Linked DNA regions of Homo sapiens: region 1 is linked to region 2. The links come from fine-mapping of genetic effects on gene expression. A gene starts in region 2. The other region holds a variant in brackets. All regions are shown on one strand. Distances are between the middles of the regions. Region 1 holds the start of PAXX (PAXX non-homologous end joining factor). Region 2 holds the start of SNHG7 (small nucleolar RNA host gene 7).

What was found.
Region 1: its variant is fine-mapped to the expression of SNHG7 in adrenal gland (GTEx, PIP 0.98).

The regions. Positions count from the first base shown.
Region 1 is chr9:136,991,717-137,000,030 of GRCh38, forward strand. PAXX (PAXX non-homologous end joining factor) reads left to right here and starts at 706. Exons shown (of 7, transcript NM_183241.3): 1 at 706-846; 2 at 924-984; 3 at 1,209-1,258; 4 at 1,337-1,527; 5 at 1,627-1,695; 6 at 1,864-1,948; 7 at 2,050-2,260. The coding sequence starts at 728. The coding sequence ends at 2,089. It overlaps CLIC3 (chloride intracellular channel 3), which reads right to left and starts at 4,852. Exons shown (of 6, transcript NM_004669.3): 1 at 4,795-4,852; 2 at 3,932-4,041; 3 at 3,726-3,851; 4 at 3,470-3,576; 5 at 3,214-3,389; 6 at 2,892-3,123. The coding sequence starts at 4,827. The coding sequence ends at 2,965. RefSeq lists silencers at 262-551, 562-941 and an enhancer at 899-1,441. The variant C/G (reference allele first, on the strand shown) is at 3,937.
Region 2 is chr9:136,724,348-136,732,661 of GRCh38, forward strand. SNHG7 (small nucleolar RNA host gene 7) reads right to left here and starts at 3,837. Exons shown (of 5, transcript NR_024543.1): 1 at 3,534-3,837; 2 at 2,699-2,739; 3 at 1,964-2,069; 4 at 708-763; 5 at 247-592. It overlaps DIPK1B (divergent protein kinase domain 1B), which reads left to right. Exons shown (of 5, transcript NM_152421.4): 5 at 1-395. LOC124900276 (cuticle collagen 2-like) reads right to left here and starts at 3,837. Exons shown (of 5, transcript XM_047424334.1): 1 at 3,534-3,837; 2 at 2,699-2,739; 3 at 1,964-2,069; 4 at 708-763. It overlaps SNORA17B (small nucleolar RNA, H/ACA box 17B), which reads right to left and starts at 1,890; the gene lies at 1,757-1,890. It also overlaps SNORA17A. RefSeq lists silencers at 3,585-4,264, 4,418-4,587 and enhancers at 5,035-5,184, 8,245-8,314.

The sequences.
Region 1 (8,314 bases), 270 kb after region 2:
GGCTAATTTTTTTGTATTTTTAGTAGAGACGGGGTTTCACCATGTTGGCCAGACTGGTCTCGAACTCCTGACCTCAGGCAATCTGCCCGCCTCGGCCTCCCAAAGTGCTGGGATTACAGGCGTGAGTCACCTTGCCGGACCAACCGTAACTTCTTACGATTAGAGTTAGGAAGCTTCCGGTTTGTGTGTGAAGACGATGGAAGGGCGGGGCTCCAGGATGTATCCGCAGAGCCACGGAGGGAACCTGGACTCGGCTGGACTTGGAGCCGGGGCGGGGGCGGGAGGGGGCGAGGTTCGAGTGGGGCTGCTCGCGGGCGCGAGGGCCAGAGCCCGGGATCGCGCCGTGGAGCCCACGACCGGCGAGGCCAGCGCTGGGGGCAGGGCCTCTGGATCCCTGACCCAGGACGCCCTGCTCCGGCCCGCCCCGCGCACTAAACTCGGCCTCTAGTCGCCTGAAGCCCGCGCGGGTACCGGGTCCGCGCGGCCCGGCCTGTGCCTTTAGCCCCGCCCCGAATCCCCCCACCCTCATAACCCCGCCCCTAACCCCGCCTCCACACACAGACCCCGCCCCCAACCAGACTCCGCCCCGCGCAAGCTCCCTAAGCCCGCGACTGGCCTGCACCCGGCTCCGGAAGTCGTTCTTCCGCGCAGGAGCCCTGAGCCCGCACAGCCCCGCCCCTCCCGGCGCCCAAGCCCCGCCCCGCCGGGTTCCCGCTCGCCCGGCGCCATGGATCCGCTGTCGCCGCCGCTCTGCACGCTGCCGCCGGGCCCCGAGCCGCCCCGCTTCGTGTGCTACTGCGAAGGGGAGGAAAGCGGGGAGGGGGACCGCGGCGGCTTCAACCTCTAGTGAGTGGGGGTCCGCGGGGAGGTAGGGGTGCAGGGAGCTCCGCGGGCGGCCCCGCCTGACAGGCCTTCTCCCCCAGCGTGACCGACGCCGCGGAGCTTTGGAGCACCTGCTTCACGCCGGACAGCCTGGCGGCCCTCGTGGGTAACTGGGCGGGTCTGGGAGCCGCCACACCCCTCCTTGCAGTGCAGATCGTCTATGGGGCGACAGACATCTGGGATTCCCCAGAAGGCTCTGACACCCTCTGCCCGCCCTGTAGCTGTAGTCCTCCCATTGGCTAGGGCTCTGGGGTCGGGCAGGTTTCGGGTGCCCCCAGTGGGCCTCGGGTTCCAGGCAGCTCGTGACAAGCCCCTGTGCTCTCTAGAAAGCCCGTTTTGGCCTGAGTGCGGCTGAGGACATCACCCCCCGGTTCAGGTGAGACCCAAGCAGGGAGGAAGGACGGGTGGGGAGGAGGAGGGTCTGCCACAGCTCTCCGCACCTCTCCTCTCCCAGGGCAGCCTGTGAGCAGCAAGCTGTGGCTCTGACTCTGCAGGAGGACAGAGCATCCCTGACGCTTTCAGGGGGGCCCTCGGCACTGGCCTTTGACCTCTCCAAGGTACCAGGCCCAGAGGCAGCCCCCAGGCTGCGGGCGCTGACACTGGGCCTGGCAAAACGCGTGTGGAGCCTGGAGCGGCGACTGGCAGGTAGGATTGGGGGTGGGCACCTCATACCTTCACTGGGGTCCCCTGCTCTTGCCCCCACTCCTGGCACTGAGTGGGGTTCCCATGGGCTTTCCTCCCCAGCTGCAGAAGAGACAGCTGTCAGCCCGAGGAAGAGCCCCCGGCCTGCAGGGCCTCAGCTCTTCTTACCAGGTAAGGCATGTCCGCCTGTGACTCAAGTAGGGCTGTGCTCTTTAACCTGGAACTCAGTTTCCCCCCAAACAAGACTCACGCTCCAGAGAGAATGCCTATCTATTCGGAGAAGGTTGTGGTTGGGATGCTGCCAGGTTCAGGAGCTGCCCCTGTCCTGTTTTCCCCCAGACCCAGATCCCCAGAGAGGTGGCCCTGGACCTGGAGTCAGGAGGCGGTGTCCAGGAGAGTCGCTCATCAACCCCGGGTTCAAGAGGTACCCTCCCACAGCCCCCTTCCTGCGCCCAGGGTCCAATCCTGGACCCCACCCCTTTCTCCACACCATAGTGCCATAGTGACACCCCTCTTCCCTCCCAGTAAGAAACCAGCTGGTGGCGTGGACTTCGATGAGACCTGAAGGTGCAGCACAAGCGTGGCCCCGCGGGGAGTCCGCCTATGAGGGGAGAGGCAGTCTTTGAGGCCCCCATCAGAGACCCCCCGCCACCACCTCCACCTGCCTGTCCTGGGCCAGGACTAACACGGCTCCTCAAATTCCTTCCCTGTCAAATAAACAGCTCCCTTGGTTGGAGGCTCTGGTGGGGCTCTGACTCCTGGCACTGGCCTGGGAAGGGATCAGGGAACACCCCTGGGCCTGTGTTCTGGGTGTAGGGCCACAGGATGTGAACAGATGCTGCAGCCTCTCAGCTCCCTGGAGACTTCCTTGCTGGGCCGGAGGGAGGTGAGCACTCTCAGACCGTCCAGCTATTCCAGCCCTGCCAGCCCAGGAGCTGAGAGGGGCCCAGCCAGGCAGGGCCAGGGCTCCCCAAGGCTTAGAACTTTGTTCCCACCCTCCCAGGCCGCACCCAGGTAGGGCACGGAGCCCCGTGGGAGGATGCAGACAGAAGTCCCGTGTAGACCCTGAGACACTGGAAGTGCCCTGCGGGGAGGGGAGCGCCTGCCCCGGGACAGGATTGAGGAATGTGCCAGCCCCCATCCACCTGGGGCACCCCGCCCCACCCCGGCCTGACTGGTTTGGGAGCCCAGTCCGGTCCTGGAGATCCCTGAGGCCACCGGTTGCAGGAGGCCTGGAGTCTGCGCCTTCTTAGCGTGGAGGATGGGACCGGCCCGACCCCCGGCGCTCCTGCCCCTGTGGTTCTGGGCTATCGGGCTGAGCGTCCCACCCTGGGGTTTGGGGATGGGAAGTGATCCCGAGACCTCTGGCCCTTCAGATGTCAGGACACCCTCACTCCCGACAAAGATGCCTTTATTGGGCGACAGACGCGGGGTGGGGCGCTAGCGGGGGTGCACGGCGGGCCGGTAGGCCGCCAGGATCTCGGCGCTGTGCGGACACGTGTATTTGAACTCTTTCTCCTGCATCGCGCTGTCCAGGTAGCGGCGTACGCCGCGCAGCTCCGCGGGGATGGGCGCCTGGCGGAAGTGCGCGCACACCGTCTGCGGGCAGGATCGCGGGGCGCGGTCAGGACCTGCCGTCCCCCAGGCGCGCCGCGGTCACCCTCCCGCCCGCCCACCTTCCGTGCTCACGTCGACGATGTGCAGCTTGGGCAGGAGGCTGCAGTCGGCCAGCGTGAGCCTGTCGCCGTCCAGGAAGCGGCGGCGGGACTCGCGCAGCTGCGGCTCCCCCGCCAGCTCGTGCTCCAGGGGCGCGCGCAGGTAGCTGTCCAGCCTGGCGAGGGCGCGCAGCAGCTGCTGGTACAGGGCTAGGGGGCAGGCGGCGCGGTGAGGACCAGGCCCAGGGCGCCCTCCCGCCTGGGCACCCGACCCCCTGACCCCGCTTCACCTTCGTCCTGCGCGGGCACCGGGTTCTTGATGAACGCGGAGAACTTGTGGAAAACGTCGTTGCCGGCGGTGTTGGACTCCCTGTAACGAGGCGCCAGGCTGGGGAAGCTGCGGGATGAGGGGGTGGGACTCCATTAGACTGGGGGCAGCCCCGTCCCGGCCCCACAGTACCCCCACAGCGCCTTCCTGGGCTCTGTCTTGCGCGCGTCCTCCCTGGGCCCCCCTCTTTTCCCCTCCCACCCTGCCGGGGCTCTCACTCGGGCGGCCCCAGCGTCTCCTCCAGAAAGTCCTCGATCTGCAGCGTGTCTGTCTTGGCGTCGCTGTCATAGAGCAGGATGGGCAGCTGCGAGCCGGGGGCGAAGTCCTTCAGCACGTCCGGGGACCTGCGGGCAGCAGCGGGGTGGGAGGAGGCCGGCCCACCAGTGTGCGAGGCCAGGCGGGGGTCCACAGGATGGGGCCTCACCTGCG[C/G]GTGTCCACCGTGGTGAGGGTGAAAGGTACGCCCTTGAGGAGCAGGACCATGAAGAGCCGCTGGCAGGAGGGGCAGTGACCCACGCTCTCCCCGTCCTCACTCGCCTGGGTGGGTGGAGCGGGGGTGGGGGGTCAGGGCTGGAAGCAGACCCAGGCATCCTGCCGCCAGGCTGGGCGGGACCCGCCTCCCACTGCCAGTGGGATTGGAGGGACGCCAGGGCTCCAGCTTGGTCGGCGCGACTTCCAAGTGCCCAGTGAGGGCCCTTGACTTGGTCCCCAGAACGTGGGGAGGGGGGCAGAGCTGCTGGGAGCCTTGAGGCCTGGGGCAGGCTTGGCCCCTGGAATCTTGTCAGAGCCTGGACAGAGGCCAGGCCCCTGGGCTCAGTCCCCAAAAGCTGGTTGCAGGGGTGGGGTGGGCCTCACAAGCTGTTTTCTGAGTGATTCACACATGAGACTGGGCACTGTGGCCAACAGCACATCAGTCCCCCACCCCAGTCCCCGACCTGAGAGCTGATGGGGCTGCCTGGCCCAGCACCCCCCATCCTGGAACACCGACCGTAAGCTCCACTGTTGGCAGCCTGCTTGGTACCTCCCCACCAAGGAGCTCTCCTCCAGAAGACTGGGCTGGGCCCAGGAGCCAAGGCTGGGAGCAGGACCAGGGCCACTGACCCCTCTCTGGGTGACTCGCTGGGTCCCACTTTACTCAGCCTCTGTAGGGCTGCCTGAGTCCCCCTAGCCACCCACAGGAAGGGGCTCAGACATTACTGGGAGGCCCACCCCACAGCCTGCCACAGAAAGCAAAGCCCAGAAAAGCGCTTCCTCCCAGACACCCTCCCCGCAGCTGAGTCCGCCCTGCACCTTGACAAACAGCTGGAGCTTGGTCTCCGCCATGGTGGGAGCTGCCGCGGTCAGGCGCGGGTGGGGACCTGGGGAGCTCTTTAAGTCTCCCTGTGCGCCCCGCCCTCCCTGGCCGAGGGGCCCGCCCCGTGGAGCCACCTAGGCGGGCAGATGAAGCTGCCCAGCGCGCAGAACCAGCTGCCTGAGCAACGCCAGCCCGGCCCCGGGGTGTCTGAGCCTGAGGGTGTGACCTCAGGGTGGCGGAATGGTGTGGGGGGCTGCCCTGGACTTGAGTCTGGTGTGCACGGAGATCCGCCCACCCGGTACTGAGTGTGCTGGGAGCCAGCGTGGTGGGTGGAGACCAGGGGGCAGGGCATAGGGAGAGCCTACAGGCCAGAAGGGTGCAGGGGGTGTCACCTGGGAAGGGGGCGGCTCTGGGTCAGGACCACCTCCACCGTGAACCCAGCTCAGACCCTGCCCTATGGCTCTCCCTTCCGCAAATACCCCTTGTCAGGGCTCCCAGCCCAGAAAGCCAGTGGGTGTGGGTGAGCAGGAGAAATGGCCTGCCCAGCCTGGCTTCAGTTCCCCATCTGCAGCACCAGGGCATCGGGAGGGTGATAAGCCCACCTGGGGGAGCCGCCCCTTCCCAGCTACGGAGCAGTCAGGCAGGGCCCTCCCCGCTCAGGGCAGGGCTCAAATTCCAGACCTGCCCGCAACAGGGCGGGGAGGCCAGCCTGGCTTTGGTGTTTGGCCGGCAGTGCAGGTCTCCACCCCACCTCCCATCCCTCCCACTGGCGCTCAGCGCAGGTTTCTTACCCCCAACCCCTTAACCTTTAAAAAGAAGCAGCAGGAGAGGGGTTAGAAGCCACAGCCTGCGTGGCTGGAAGAAAGAGGCCAGGGGAGGGTGGTGGTCCACAGGTGTGAGCCTGCGCTGAGCCTCCTGGCGTGATTGGAACCCACAGTTCAGTCTGGCCCTTTGGGGTCGCCAACTGTGCCTTCCTCCCACCTGGCCCTGACGCTTTAGGGTGCAGCCCCAGGGAGGTACACCGAGGGGAGATTCCACCCAGAGACCTGGGGTGCCCACAGGATTGGCCTGGCCACACCTCCCCCAGGCGGTGTGGTGCCTCACCAGCCTGGACAGGGCAGCTGAGGTGGCACTGCTCTCCTGCTCACCTTCTCCCCAGGGCCTTGGTACGGGCCCCTCATCCGTCCCCGGTGGAACACACTCCAGTGCTGCCCCAGTCAGCCCAGCCTGATGCTTCTCTGGATACCACGCCAGTCGGGGCTCCTGGACACAGAGCCTTGGAAATACCATGTGGCTGCCCCATCCTTTGGTGTCCTGAACCTCAATTTCCCTCCATCCGGCCTCCACCTCGATTCCAAGCCCTAGTATTTCAGCTCTTTCTGGACACTGTGGTTATAGCTCCGCTTGCTGGTTTCCCACATCCCTGGCAGGCAAATGGCCAACCACAGAGAAGCCCCAGGCCCCCAGCCCCCTCTGCTGCCCCGGCATCCTGTGTCTTTAACACCGACAGACGCACCCTCACAAACCCACAGGAAAAATGACGGCACGGACAGAGGCCGTGAACCGGTGGCTCAGAAGGAAAAAGAAAACAAGACACAGGAAGACCATTCACCTCACGCCCGTCTCAAGAAACAAACCAACAAGACTCGGTTCACCGCTGCAGCGGCCCCACTGCGTTCTGTGGGCGTGGGCTGTGGACTGTGGAGCGGCAGTGGCCATCCAACACCCCCCTGTGCCCTCGCCACCTGGGAATCAGCCCGGTGGCTTCCTTTTTTTTTTATGGTTTAATCAATTCATTTATTTACTAGAAACAGGGTCCTGCCATGTTGCCCAGGCTGGTCTCCACCTCATGGGCTCAAGTGACCCACCTGCCTTGGTCTCCCACAGTGCTGGAACTACAGGCGCGAGCTGCCACACCCGGCCGGTTTCCCTGTGAAGGGCAAGTGAGTGCTGGCTGCCCCACTGCGTGGCGTGGCGTGGCGTGGCGTGGCTCCGTGGCACGGCCACCACCCTGTCTATGGGAGACTCCAGTTGTGTCCAGGGAGAAGGACGGAAAAGGTGACTCCATGCATGCCCACTGCAGGGAGGGCCTGAGATTAGGTAAATGGCGTGGCTTGTGTCCCCTTAAATTTAAATTCTTAGGCTGGAGTCCTAACCCCTAGTGCCTCAGAATGTGACCTTATATGGGCCGGGCACGGTGACTCATGCCTGTAATCCCAGCAGTCTGGGAGGCCGAGGGGGGTGGATCACCTGAGGTCAGGAGTTTGAGACCAGCCTGACCAACATGGTGAAACCCCGTCTCTACTAAAAATACAAAAATTAGCCAGGCATAGTGGCAGGCACCTGTAATCCCAGCTACTCGGGAAGCTGAGGCAGGAGAAGTGCTTGAACCCGGGAGACAGAGTTGCAGTGAGCAGAGATAGTGCCACTGCATTCCAGCCTGGGCAACAGAGCAAGACTCCATCTTGGAAAAAAAATAAAGAATGTGACCTTATGTGGAAACAGGGGCTTTTTAACATTTTTTTTGAGACAGAGTCTTGCTCTGTTGCCCAGGCTGGAATGCAGTGGTGCAATCTCGGCTCACTGCAACTTCTGCCTCCTGGGTTCAAGCAATTCTACTTTCTCAGCCTCTGGAGTAGCTGGGATTACAGGTACACGTCACCACGCTGAGCTTTTTTTTTTTTTCCTTGTATTTGTAGTAGAGACAGGGTTTCACCATGTTGATCAGGCTGGTCTCGAACTCCTGACCTCAGAAGATCTACCCACCTTGGCCTCCCAAAATGCTGGGAATACAGGTGTGAGCCACCGCACCCGGCTGAAATAGGGTCTTTATAGAAGTTATCAAGTTAAAATGTGGTGAGTAGGATGTGCCCTGATCCAATATGACTGATGTCAGTATAGAAAGGCGAGTTTGGACACAGATGCACAGGGAGGGCCGCAGGCAGAAATCAGGGTGGCACATCTGTAAGCCTGGGAGCCAAGCGGATGCTCTCCAAGGCCCTTGGGAGGAAGCAGCCCTGCCCAAGCCTAGGTGCTATGTCTGACCTCCAGACTGCTAGGCAGTGAGCTTCTGTTTTTTTTGTTTTTTTTTTTTAATGAGATGCAGTCTTGCTCTGTCGCCCAGGCTGGAGTGCAGTGGCACAATCTCGGCTCACTGCAAGTTCTGCCTCCCCAGGTTCACGCCATTCTCCTGTCTCAGCCTCCCAAGTAGCTGGGACTACAGGCGCCCGCTACCACACCTGGCTAATTTTTGTATTTTTAGTAGAGACGGGGTTTCACTGCGTTAGCCAGGATGGTCTCGATCTCCTGACCTCGTGATCCGCTCGCCTCGGCCTCCCAAAGTGCTGGGATTACAGGCGTGAGCTCCCGCGCCCCGCGGTGTTGTTGTTTTAAGATGGAGTCTCACTGTCACCCAGGCTGGAGTGCAATGGCTCAATCTCGGCTCATTGCAACCCGCGCCTCACCGGCTGAAGCGATTCTCCTGCCCCAGCCTCCCGAGTAGCTGGGATTACAGGC
Region 2 (8,314 bases):
AGATATATGCGGTATTTTAAAAACTGATTTTACAAAATCCAGCCATGAGATGTACAACTCATTCCCTAGGAAACAGCCCAGGAATGGCCATCTTCTCCAGCCCCGTACGCTCTCCCCAGTAGCCCAGGGCACCCAGCAACCATCCCCTAGGAGAACAGGCAAGGACCCTCGTGGGAAGATCCCACCACAGCAACACCTTTCTTCAGGGCGGGCTCTGCTCCGCAATGTGTGAGTCAAGACAATCCATTCCATTCAAGACCAATTTACTCTCAAATTTTGCCAACACAGAAATATTATCCTTAAAGAAATGTGCATTTAAATCTTTTAATTCACTTCATCCTGTATTTTAAAATAAATGTTTTCCATATAGATTTTCCCCTTGGGGGGGAAAAGAATTCAGGGTCTTAGGTTCCAGGCAGTTCAAAAACAGCCACGCGGTTCTTTTTTCTCCACCAGAATACCACAATAGCAGAACTTAAGAATCGGGATATGAAAAGGGAGGCGTGGTCCTGGCAGTGGCCCCTGGCCGGCAGGAATACACAGCAACACCCAGGCAGGGGCAGCGGCTGCCCCCATGCCAGCCTGCCCATCCCTGTAATGACAGCAGGGCAGGAGATGCAGCTGTGGCCCTGGGGGCAGGTGGGCTCTGAGGCTGCAAACACCCTGAGTGCCAGTGGTCCCAGAGGGGGTGAGGCCTCTATCTGTACCTTTATTCCAGCCAGCCTCCTGGCACAGGGCTGGGCCCACATCCTGGCCTCTGCATCTGAAAAACAAACAAGGACAGTGATGCAGACCAGGGTTCTTTAACCCGGATTCACCAAATGACCCTCAGGGAACCCAATTTATGAAATCCCGAAACTGTACTTTTTTTTTTTTTTTTTTTTTTGAGACAGAGTCCCACTCTGTTGTCCAGGCTGGAGTGCAGTGGTGCGATCTCGGCTCACTGCAACCTCTGCCTCCCGGGTTCAAGCGATTCTCCTGCCTCAGCCTCCCAAATAGCTGGGATTACAGGCTTGCGCCACCACACCTGGCTAATTTTTGTATTTTTAGTAGAGATGGGGTTTCAGGCAGTTGGCCAGGCTGGTCTCGAACTCCTGACCTCAGGTGATCCACATGCATTGGCCTCCCAGAGTGCTGGGATTACAGGCCTGAGCCACCGCGCCAGGCCTCCAGAAAGTGTATTTTGAAGTTATCTTTCTTGATACTGTCTCTTAGCAGGAGTCTGACACTGGCACTGCTGACATTTGGGCCACATCACTCTTCACTACGGGGCGTCCCAGGCACTGCAGGACATGCAGCTGCGTCTTTGGCCTCTGTACCCCCATTGCTACCCATTTTGGGGAGAGGATTCCTGTTTCCAAAGTGACCCAGACACATCTCTGGGCAAGGCAGCTCCTGACCCCTACCCAGGGCCCTTCCTTTGTGCACAGGAGTTGCAGCCCCGCCCCCGCCCCCCTGGGATGACTAGTGCTGGACAAGGAACAGCCTGTTTATCCAGCTCGACTGTTCTTAATCAAACTTGCCTAAGGCCTCCCAGACAGACCTACAGAATCGTTTCCAGAACGAGGCCTGGGAGTGAGACGCACACTCCTGGTAACCCCACAAGTGCCCGAGCTTCAGATACACACACAGCTCATTTATACATATCTACACCTCAGGGTTCCCAGCGATGTTGCTGCCCCTCCCTCATGGAGCAAACCAGGTAAGGTGGTTTCCAAAAGCGAAAATCCAAATGCTGCCTGGCTTTGGTTGCAAGTAATGTCAGGCCATAAACCATTCTCAGTGCCCACTGGTTCCCGAGCACTGAGTGTAGAAATCGCCACTTTCTCTTTGCCCCGAGGCCACAGGCACAGCAGAGCAACTGTCTGTGGTGCCAACAGGTCCAGGACAGCATCCGCAGGGCAGCCGCTCACACGCACCCGGCAGGCAGGGAAGGAGGGCAAGCCTCCGCCTCACCTCTTACCTGGATCAGGGCTGGTGCTGGTCAGCCTGGTCACTCTGGCCAGTGCTCACACTGGAAGTCCATCACAGGCGAAGTCACCTCCTTCCCGTGTTAAATAACAAGAATGCTTGGCAAAGAATCAAGAACACAAGCGGCTGCCGTTACTGCTATTAACCGAGACGCCAGCAAACCCTTCCCCAGTCCTGTCCTGCGTGATCCTGACACGGTGTACGGCATGATCCAGCGCGTACCTCACCTGACCTGACCGATCCTCACAGGTTCTTAAAACTCACTCATGAAGGCTGCTCCTGGTGAAGGCACCCTCCACCTTCCCACTATCCCTTCAGACCCCTAGAGGCCAGCCTAGCCCAGCGCGAGAGTTAGAAAGCCCACTCACAGGGCCCACCCTCTCTCCCAGATACCAGCGAAGGAAAACAGATGCCTGTCCACAAAACAGGAGTGTGAGACTATCAAACATTCAAACGTTCACGGGGCAGAACGCTGAGCGTAGACATAGCCTCTCTAATCTCTGCCACCTAATGACACAGATGTGACACGGCAGCCACAGCTGCAACGCCTCTAGGGGCAGTGTCCTGTTGAAGACTAAATAATCCGTTTTTACTCCCCTGGAGACAGCTTCTAGCCTCAATGTGAACACAAGACCGACTGGTCCCTCCAGTCACTTAAGATGTTGCACAGGAGGGCTTAGTTACATTGGAGGATTGACCCTGTTCCAGCTCCAATGCACCAACTTACCCAACACCCCACGCACGTGTCATCTCCAGTGAGCAGACGTCCTAGAGAAAAAAAGAAACCGCAATTTTGTATAAATCTTGCAAACACCACAGAGGAGCATCACATAAACACTGCGTTTTTTGGGAGGCCGAGGCGGGCAGATCACTTGAGGTCAGGAGTTCAAAACCAGCCTGGCCAACACGGTGAAACCCGTCTCTCTAAAAAAAAAAAAAAAAAAAGTTAGCTGGCCTAGTGGCTGGCGCCTGTAATCCCAGCTACTCTGGAGGCTGAAGCAGGAAAGTCGCTTGAACCCAGGAGGCAGAGGTGGTAGTGAGCTGAGATCGCGCCACTGCACTCCAGCCTGGGCAACTGAGACTCTGTCTCGAAAAGAAAAAGACTGCGTTTTGCTGCATCTGGTCTCCAGGAAGGCGGACCAAAGAAGCTCCCTGCCACCAAAAAGCTCACTGTCACAAGGGCCGTTCTAGAAAAATCCGACCCATGTTACTCTCTCCCCTTACTCTACGCTTAATTTGCGGGAGGGGAAGTTGGAGTTACAACACAGTGGCCACGAAACGCGGGCTGCTGATCCCCTGCAGGTATCAAGGGACCAGGACCACGAGGCGGAATGCCCACCAGACAACCGAGCAGTCCTCCTCCCGCCAGAACAGCCTCCCGCTGAGCAGCCACAGTGACAAGGAAACCACCTGACGCAGCATAAGAAATCAATTTTTCAAAGATGCCGACAAACATCTTCCCACAGCCTGAGCGACTCAGGGAAGCAGCGGCAGGAGCGGAAGGGTCGTGGGTGAACGGGGTGCCTTTCTCTAAGATCCGAATTCGCGCACTCAGCTCTCACCAGGCTTCCCGAAGCTTCCTGGCTGGAAACCGCGCAGGGCCGGCAGCGCCCTCTCCACCAAGGGACACACCAGCGGCGCCTCCTCCGCGGCCCGGGCCCCCATCCCGCGGCTCGCGCGGCCAGGACGCCCCAGGTCGGAGCCTGCCCCCACCCCGCACCCGGAGGCCAGCAGCCCAGTCCCCTAGGCCGCGCAGCGCCAGCGAGAGCGAGGCTGCAGGGCGAGGCCCGGTGAGGCGCTCGAGAACTGGCCGGGAGGAGAAGTCAGGCGGCCCACCCGCCACGGCAGCCTCCGGCGCACGCAGAGGACGAGAAGGGAAGCGCCGCGCCTTTTATAGCGCGTACGGCGGCCCGCAAGAGTCAATCCGCCCCGCCCAAGCAGCGCCCCCCAGCGGTCCCCGGCCGTTCAGCTCCCCGCGCCCGCACGTGGGCGCTGCTCAGTGGCTGGCGGGCGGGCGTGTGGGTTCGCCACGCAGAGCAGCGGCAGCGCCGTGACCCGTGTCCTGCACCGCGACCGCCCCACGGGGCCAGCAGCCAGGGCCGCGCCGTTTCCGACCCGCCGGGTGCCGGGCACGCCACGGACACGCGCGGCTCCCCGTTTTCGCGGAGGATTCCCAGGCCGGGTCAGGAGGACGCTCCACGAGCCCGTGGGTCCCGGTGGTCCCAGCCATTGGGGCGGCTCCCGTGACTGTCGAGCAGCGCCCACCCCGGGCAGCATGGGGCTCCCGCGACGCGCTCCGTCCCTTCCCCACCAGGGGCTCTGCCGGTGTCGGCCATGGGCGCGGGTACACACCAGGCGCCTAATGAGTGCTGAGGCGGGCGAGGGTCCCGGCAGGCGGGATTACCGCGGCCAGGCCTGACTAGCGCCCTGTCTGCGCTGTGTCCTGGGACCTCGGTCACCGCGCAGGGCGGGACACCGAGGCCTCGCGGCCAAGCGACTCGCCGCGGTCGCCGGGCTGCGAACGGTGGAGCCGCCGGGACTCGGACCAGGACGCGAGCTCCAGAGCAGGGGATGACAGGCCTGAGCCGCAGGGGCCGGGAGGAAGGCCGCGCTGCTGTCCTGGGGCTGGGCAGCCTCCGCATTGCACAGCGCAGACCGCTCTAGCCTTAGGCCTGGAGGGGACACCAGGAGATGAGGCTTCTGGCTCAGCCTGCTCTCTGCAGCCACAGGCAAAGGCCAGGAAGGCCGGGGTGCGGGAGCTGGCATAGGAGCTGGCTCCAGCTCGGGTACTGGCTTAGAGGGAGCAGGAGCTGGTGATAAATTCAACTCAAATTTTCATTGCCTTTGCAAAGCCAGAAAACACCCCAGGGCTCCTAAGAAAAGCCCCAGCGCAGGACCCCAGGACACTTTGCAACTGGGCTGCAACTGCGCGGTCTGAGGCTCCTCCCTGTGTGGCCCCACCAGCAGGCTGGGTTCTAGCTCTGGTGTTGGGGCTGGAGCTGGCACCACAGCAGGCTCCACCTCCAGAGATGGTGCAGGCTCTGTCCTAGCACTGACACGGTTGTTGGAGACAAGCTGGCTCTGCCCCGGGGACCGATGCTCTGGAGCTGCCTCTAGCTGTGTTGCTGTTGCTAGTCTTTGCCCTGGGAAAAGTGTCAGAGCTGGTCCTAGCTCTGGATATGGTGCTAGAGCTGGTTCTTGATTGGATTTCGCTCTAGAGCTGGCAGGAACTCTGGCTCTCGTTCTGAAGCTGGTGCAGGTCTGAGATGGCTGTAGCTCTGGAGCTGCCTCTAATTCTGGTTCTGGTTGTGGAATCAGCCATCGCTTTATATCTGGTGCCAGCTCTGGCTCTGGAGGTGGTGCTGCAGCTGGCCCTTCCTCTGAACCTGGCACTGGCTTGAGGTCTACACCTGGAACTGGCTGAAACTCTGGAAGTGGTTTTGGAGCCGGTGCCCGAGCAGTCACCGGAGGTGGCACCAGATTTGGTGATAGAGCTGCCTCTGTTTCTGGAGTAGGTGGTAGAGCTGGTGCGGCAGCTGGAGTGAGATCTGGAGTTGTGCTGGCTGTGGCCATAGTTCTTGAGCTGGTACAGGAACCCGCACTGGTGTGAGCCGCGGTGCTGAAGCTGGGCCTGTAGCTGATGCTGGCCCTGGCTCTTTTTCTGAACCTGATGCTGATATTTGGCCCTAACCATGCAAATGGTTTTGGAACTGGTCCTGGCTAGAGGGCGGATGCTGGAGCTATAGTGGAGCCGGCACAGAAGTGACCAGAGCTGCCCCTGTCTCTGGGTGTGCTGCTGGAGCTGTTGCTGGAGCTGGCTCTGATCCTGGAACTAGCACCCGAGTTGTAGCCGGAGCTGGCTCTACCTTCTGAGCTGGTGCAGGAGTTGGCTGTAGCTCTGTAGCTAGTGAAAGCTCTAGCTGTGGAGAGAGGGCAAGAGACATCTCCTCCTTCAGAGATACTGAGTCCATTGCACCCGACCCAGCACTTGCTCCATGCTGCGGGGTAGATCTACCAAGCACTTACTGAAACCAGTATGCATAGCCCCGGAGCAGACCATGACCTGCTGAGACCCAGGAGAGGACCTGAGCCCCAGCACCTGAGAGAGGAGCTACCCCATGACAGTGGGGTACTTAGAAGGTGGAGATGTCACATCCCCTGCCCCAGGTCACATGACAGAGGTCAGAGGGTAGGTAGATGGCACTTCTGTGCAGGTCAGCCCAGGCTAGGTGCGGTGGCTCACGCCTGTAAGGCCAACACTTTGGGAGGCTGAGGCGGGCGGATCACCTGAGGTCAGGAGTTCATGACCATCCTGGCCAACATGGTGAAACCCTGTCTCTACTAAAAATACAAAAATTAGCCGGGCATAGTGACGCAACCCTGTAATCCCAGCTACTTGGGAGGCTGAGGTGGGAGAATGGCGTGAACCCGGGAGGCGGAGTTTGCAGTGAGCCAAGATCGAGCCTTTGCACTCCAGCCTGGGCGACAGAGCGTCTCAAAAAAACAAAAAAAAAAATTCTGGAGAAGATGATGGGGGTGATGGTCGCACGACAATGTGAATGTACTTAATGCCACTGGAGTGTGCACTTAAAAATGGTTAGGGCAGGCCGGGCGCAGTGGCTCATGTCTGTAATCCCAGCACTTTGGGAGGCCGAAGTTGGGCGTATCACCTGAGGTCGGGAGTTTGAGACCATCCTGACCAACATGGAGAAACGCCATCTCTACTAAAAATACAAAATTCGCCGAGCGTGGTGGTGCATGCCCGTAATCCTGCTACCTGGGAGCTGAGGCAGGAGAATCGCTTGAACCCGGGAGGCAGAGGTTGTGGTGAGCCGAGATCCAGCCATTGCACTCCAGCCTGGGGAACAGAGCGAGACTTTGTCTCAAAAAAAAAAGGTTAAGGCCAGGCCGGGTGTGGTGGCTCACGCCTGTAATCCCAGTCCTTTGAGAGGTCAAGGTGGGCAGATTGCTTGAGGCCAGGAGTTCCAGACCAGCCTGGGCAACACGGTGAAAATTAGCTGGACAAAATTAGCCAGGCATAGTCTGTAATCCTAGCTACTCAGGTGGCTGAGGTGGGAGGATCCTTTGAGCCCAGGAGTTGGGGGCTGCAGTGACCTGTGATTGTGTCACTGCACTCCAGCCTGGATAACAGAGACAGAACCTGTCTAAAAAAAAAAAAAAGGTTAAAACGGTGAATTTTATGTTCTGTATATTTTACTGCAATAAAAAATTTAAGGAAATTATTTATTTACTGCCTTAGTTTATTTGTGCTGCTATAACAAAATACCTGGGACTGGGTAAATTATAAAGAACAGAACAGTTCTGGAGGCTGGGAGGTCTGGGAACAAGGTGAGTGTCTGGCGTCTGGTAAGGGCCTTCTTGCTCTGTCCCGTAGCAGCAGAGCAGCCTAGCAGGATGCTGCTTCAGAAGGGCCTTCATCCCATTCACACGGGAGGAGACCTCATGGCCTAATCGCCTCTTCAAAGGCCCCACCTCTTGATATGTTCACACTGGCAACATCTGAATTTTGGAGAGGACACATTCAAACCACAGAACTTACCATTCAAAACAAAATAGAAGCCCACCAGGCGCGGTGGCTCACGCCTGTAACCCCAGAACTTTGGGAGGCCAAGGTGGGTGGATCACCTGAGGTCAGGGGTTCAAGACCAGCTTGGTCAATGTAGTGAAACCCCATCTTTACAAAAATACAAAAATTAGCCAGGCATGATAGTGGGTGCCTATAATCCAAGCTACACAGGAGGCTGAGGTGGGAGAATCACTTGAACCCAGGAGGCGGAGTTTGCAGCGAGCTGAGATTGTGCCACTGCACTCTGGCCTGGGCAACAGAGTGAGACACCGTCTCAAAAAAATTTTAAAAAAATTTAAAAACCCAACCAAAGAGGCCTGGCGCAGTGGCTCACGCCTGTAATCCCAGTACTTTGGGAGGCTGAGGCGGGTGGATCACCTGAGGTCAGGAGTTCGAGACCAGCCTGGCCAACATGGGGAAACCCCATCTCTACTAAAAATGCAAAAATCAGCTGGGCATGATGGTGCGCACCTATAATCCCAGCTACTCAGGAGGCTGAGGCAGGAGAATCACTTGAACCTGGGAGGCAGAGGTTGCAGTGAGCAGATATTGTGCCACTGCATGCACTCCAGCCTGGGCGGCAGACTGAGACTCCCTCTCAAAAAAAAAAAAAAAAAAAAAACCAAAACAAACAAAACAAAAGTGACAGCAACAGACAGCCCGCAGTCTCAGAACACCCACACTCTGTGACGACTCAGAATTTCTTCCAGACTTCACGGATCACCATTCTGGATAAAACAACAAATCAACTAAACG